Linked DNA regions of Homo sapiens: region 1 is linked to region 2. The links come from fine-mapping of genetic effects on gene expression. A gene starts in region 2. The other region holds a variant in brackets. All regions are shown on one strand. Distances are between the middles of the regions.

Evidence for each region. PIP is the estimated chance that this variant, and not a neighbour inherited with it, causes the effect. A credible set is the group of variants that fine-mapping cannot tell apart.
Region 1: its variant is the best candidate, but not a certain one, in a credible set for the expression of BOLA3-DT in fibroblasts (GTEx, PIP 0.53).

Annotation. Positions count from the first base shown.
Region 1 is chr2:74,126,214-74,128,713 of GRCh38, reverse strand. It overlaps a transcript of TET3 not described here. Among named protein-coding and RNA genes, the nearest start is that of BOLA3, 20 kb to the left of the region's middle. The variant A/C (reference allele first, on the strand shown) is at 1,362.
Region 2 is chr2:74,146,641-74,149,666 of GRCh38, reverse strand. It overlaps BOLA3-DT (BOLA3 divergent transcript), which reads right to left and starts at 1,686. Exons shown (of 3, transcript NR_045636.1): 1 at 1,444-1,686; 2 at 1,189-1,317; 3 at 1-969. It overlaps BOLA3 (bolA family member 3), which reads left to right and starts at 1,755. Exons shown (of 4, transcript NM_212552.3): 1 at 1,755-1,846. The coding sequence starts at 1,793. RefSeq lists an enhancer at 1,342-2,001 and a silencer at 1,535-2,014.

The DNA.
Region 1 (2,500 bases), 21 kb after region 2:
AGCCTTTTTTTTTTTCTAATAGTCTTTATTATTTTTTTATAGTCTTTATTGTTTTAGAACAGTTCTACATTTACAGAAAAATTTTGAAGATAGTGGAGTTCCCATATGTCCCACATCCAGTTTCCCTGATTATTCACATCTTACGTTAGTATGGGGCATTTGTTACAATGAATTTGTTACACTATTATTAAGGAGAGCCCATACTTTATTCAAGTTTCCTTAGTCTTCCCTTAATGTCTTTTTTCTAGGTAGCCCCTCCATGAAACCAGATTACATTTAGTCATCATGTCCCCTTGGCTCCTCCTGGCGGTGGCAGTTTCTCCGATTTTCCTTATTTTTGGTAAGCCTTAGTCCATATAAATATATTCTGGGGGAATTATAGATGGGTTTGACAGAAAGCAATTTTAAAAACAAAAACTACAAAAGAAGAAAGTCACAATCAATTGATTAGTTGAAAGTTACTCTATTCCAAACATCTTGGCAAACATTAAATAATCACATTTCAGAAACTACACCAAGCGAAAAAAAAAATGCCTTGAGTTATGGACATCAGGAAGCAGTAGCTTTGCACAAAAAGGATGGGTTTAAGGAGAACACTGTTTGAGGTGAGGTTTGGTAGATTTACAAACAAGGTTAGAGAAGGCTTCTATACACACATTATTAACCTGTGACATTAAATATATCTCTAAAACTTTATAACTTTTCCTTTTATTTAACAGAACTGTTGGAAGAAAACAAACAATATTTTGACTAGAAATGGAAATTCCTGATGCTTTGGGAATTGTTTCAGTACTTTTTCTAATACTTTAGGCATTGACTAGAAGAACTGAGACTAGAAAATACTCTTGCCTGTTTAGTCAGTATCACGTATCTTCATCTGTTTGTTGTCGCTGCTGAAGCACACACTTAAAATAATCATCATACATTTATGCACACAACCCCTTCTCCCGTGCCCTATACAAACCTATTAAGCTATTTTTCCGAATCAAATTTGCACAACTTTAAAGAAAAAAAAAAAACCTCACAGAATAATGTGTTTTTCAAGGCAGGCATTTTAAAAGCTAATCCCAACTTGCCCCGTTTTAGGCTTTTACAGTGTTTAACTTGCTTTCTTGGGTAGTTAGTCTGGAAATGAGTTCATCATCTGATATAGGATGGCTGGATTTTAATATTTTCTGTCTCCAATTCGTTTGGTTAAATGCCTAAAGCTGGTAGTCTACTAGTGCTGAAGGAAGAGGGGAAGCATTTATGGCTCATTAGAACCAATCCCCATGGTTTCCAGGTCAGCTGATTTTCTCACTACAATACTTAACAGCAAGATGAGAGGCTTTATTAACATCATGTCAATAAAGCCATTAATA[A/C]TTCAGAAGAAATTTTAATTACAAACTTAAAAGAATTACATAGTTGTAAATTAGTCTGTCACTAAGTAAAGACTACTACATTTCACTTTGGGAGACCTTGTAAAATGTAAGCTAACTCATTGCTGGAACCTTGAAACAGAGGTCATCCGGATCAACAAGCATGAGTCCGTCCCTTCTGCCAGCTTCTGATCCCCTCATTTGAGTTTATGAGATGAGCCAATAATGAATGTAGAGGCAAGCAGCTCATTTTTCTACCTAAAACTAAGTCTCAGCCTGACACTTTTCTTCTGACCCAGTTACAGCTGCTTCTCTGGTGTGTGCTTCAATCCTCTTCACTGGGCACCATTAAACACTGGACTTGGTAGCTGTCTATGCATGTGACCAATTTCACTATCCATCTTCTGGCTTCAGTGCCAATTTTAAGAATGCTAATTCCTACGTGGCCAGATTTCTATAAAGATGGCAAATTATTTTATTCTGGCTAAAATTAATCATATTATTAATATTTTCTAAAGTTAGCGTTTACATTTACTGCTTTAAAAAAATTCCAGGCTGGGTGTGGTGGCTCACGCCTGTAATCCCAGCACTTTGGGAGGCCGAGGCAGGTGGATCATGAGGTCAGGAGATTGAGACCATGCTGGCTAACACGATGAAACCCCGTCTCTACTGAAAAAATACAAAAAATTAGCCGGGAGTGGTGGCGGGTGCCTGTAGTCCCAGCTACGTGGGACACTGAGGCAGGAGAATGGTGTGAACCCGGGAGGCGGAGCTTGCAGTGAGCAGAGATGCACCACTGCACTCCAGCCTGGGTGACAGAGCAAGACTCCATCTCAAAAAAAAAAAAAAAAAAAATCCAGCAAATATAAAATTTAGGCCTAAAAGATGCCAATGATTTAAAACTCTACACAGATCTAAGATCAATGCCTATGTATGAGTGTAGCTACTGCCACGAGGCATTCTACTCATAGCCAGCCTAGGAAAGTGTGAGCTGAATACAGGTCCTATGCCAAAAAACCTCTGCCTGAAACAGAACTACAGACGTGAGAAGCATTAATAGATGTGCACTGTATTTATATAAGCTTCTCTTTTCAGCATTAAAACAGCTGATCTACTGTGTCAATCTGGTAGAGATCAGTTGG
Region 2 (3,026 bases):
GTAGTTCTCCCTGCATGGTTGCAAAGATGGTTGCCAGCAACTCCAGCCTTTCTACCAGCTTAGCAACATAGAGGAAAAAGATCAATGTCTGGGAACAACAGACACTGGGGAATACAAGACTGGGGAAGGAGGAAGGGGGCAAGGGTTGAAACTACCTATTGGGTACTATGCTCATTACCTGAAGGACGGATTCGTTCATACTCCAAACCTCAGCACCATGCAATATACCTCTGTAACAAGCCTGCATATATACCCCCGATTCTAAAATAGAAGTTGCAAAAGGAAGTCCCTCTACCAATTCTCATTGGTCTGGCTCAGACCATGGGGCCGACCCTAAACCAGTCTCTGATTAGCCAGACTTGGGTCCTGTTTCCATTCCTAAAGCTGGGGATAGGTGCGCCTCATCTAAACCATGCTGTCTGAATAGCAAGGGAATGGTTCACCATTACTACCCTGCTTGAGAAAAAATTTTTTTGACAGTTTAAATTGCATCATTGACAGCAATGAAGAAAACTTAGCAAATCATCTCTAAACATTTTAAAAGAATGAAGCAGAAAATGTAAGACAGGCTAGTAATTGATCCAAAGGAGAAATTCTGAAGGCCAGAACATAGGAGTCAGTTAATACTGTAATAAATAAATTAGACAATATCCATATATAACAACTATAGGTCCAATCCATCCAAGTGCAACGCTGAAGGGACGTATTGATTGCATAGGCCAGAATGTTGGCAAAAAGCTGGTAAATCCTGCAGGGTGCCACCAGACCGCGTGCTGCAAACAAATAACAGCTAGAGAGAGGAGAGGCTTGGTTGAATTTCGGCCTTGACTGGTCTGAAGACTCCAGAGGCGGGACGAATTTGCGGACAGTTCTACCCCATCCCACATGGCGTCAGCTTCCCTTCCATTCTCATGACTCCATGGTCCATGGCTCCAACCTGGGCCTCTGTTAGGCTGTGTCCTGTGGCACCTTAAACTCAGGCAAATTAAGAACTGTTCGTGGACTCTGCTCAGCCCCCACCTAACCCTCCATCCAAGTCATTGTCCAAGCCAGAAACTGGAGTCATCTCAGATACCTTCCCACTCACACCTCCACATGCAGTCGCTCGATTCCATTCACCTCCCAAGTGTCTCAGTTCATTCTTCCATCCCTCCCGCCACTGGTTTAGTTAGGCCCCTCCATTCTCACCTGGACCATCGCGGTAGCCTCGGAGCTTCTGACTGTGTCTCTGGTTGCAGCCCCTACACGCTCTCTTCCTTACAGGAGCGGAGCGATCTTTCTCAAGCGCGAATCAAATCCTTCCACGAGTCCCCGCACCTGGAGCGAAGGCCAAACTCCTCAGCTTAGAAGCTAGACTGCCAGAGTAGGGAGTGGGAATGGAAAAGTACATCAGGAGCACGAGGGGTATTCGGATGAGGGAAGGCCAGTATAGGGCGCCGAGACCTTGGAGTGTTTCTGAGCTGAGGAGGAATGAGACTTTCACGCGGGCAAGGGGACCCTATCCATGAAACAGGCCCTGGGGAGACTGAAGGAGAGCGGCGCGAGCGAAGGCAGAGGGCGGGGCCCCGAGGTCGGCAGGCGCTGCAGTGTCGGGGGTGGCGAGTCAGCCAGGGCCAGGGGATGGCGGGGTGGGGCCGGAGCCAGGCGACCGGAGGCCTCCGGGGCGGGGCCGGGAGGCTGACGGCCTCCGGGCGGCAGGGGGCGGCCTCTCCCACGGCGGCGGCTCTCGGTCCCCCGCTCCGCGTCTTTCGGGCATACAGTGACCTCGGGCGGCGGGTCACGTCGGCCGGGCATGGCTGCATGGAGCCCGGCCGCGGCAGCGCCTCTCCTCCGCGGGATCCGCGGGGTGAGCGTGGGCAGGGTCGGGGCTGCTCTCCCCGGGACGGGAGCTGCGGAGGGACCGCGGGGCCGGCGGCTGTCGGGGCTTGAGGACTGGCTCCCGGAGGGCGCGCGCGGCACTGGCAATGGGGGGCTCCTCTTCCTTTCTCTCATTCATTCTTTCATTCATTCATTCACTCAGCGACAACGGCATTCGAAATTTCAAGCTCTGGCGCGCTCTAGGGGAGCTCCCGAGCTGGGTGGAGGTTGGAGGTCAGGCGGACAGACACATGAACAGTCATAATACTGCGGGCACAGGAAAAAAAAAGGATTGGTTTACCGAGCAGAAGACAGGAGTCATAGCCCAGAGTCAAGGCGTGGGTGCGAGGGACTGCAGCGGGGCCGGGGCCTTGGGAAGGTCGACTGGGCCTCTGACCTTGATCCTCCTCCAAATCCCACACTACCGGAGCAGAACCCAAGCAGGGGGCACTTCCCACGCGCTCTCCTAATCTCTCCCCCTTTCTGAACCATCCTTTGCTTCAGCTCATACCATTCTTTCTCTTAACTTTCATTTTCCTTCTCCCCTGGTTCTGAACCTGCCTGCCCTGTGCATGAAGAGAAGTTCTTCCACTGCGGTGACTTTCAGCGTGGACAGTGATCATCTGGGGATGTCAGTTGATTGTTCCACTAAAGGCCGCTGCCCACAGATCCGCTAAGATGAAAGGCTTCTCCCAAGGATTCTGCAACGCTCACCTCTCTCACCCCTTAGTAGCTGCCGATTCTGTCTGCCATCTGGTTACTCTCTGCCTTTACCCTCAAGATTCTGCCCCCAGAAGCAGCTCCACCCCACCCTCACTCCTGGCAATCCTGTCCAGCCTCTCAACATCGAGTTTCTGTCCCTCCACACAGCAGGCAGACAATCACACTCTGGACCTTTCTCCTGTCTTGCATTTCTGTCCCTAATTGACTAGTTCTTCCCCTGCTCATTCATTCATCCAGCACCAAGTGCCTCTGAGGGCCTGCCCTGGGGTCAGCTCTGGGATGCTGCCGGACTCATTCCTGGCCTATAAGACCAGTGGTGAGAGAGCCAGTGCACAGCTCATTTTAAAGGAGGTGCTCTGAGATTCTGTGACACAGGACCCTGCTCTGAGCTATCAGGAAGGACTGAGGGGTAGAGGGGTGGGACCTTCAGCACCAGCACCCATGAA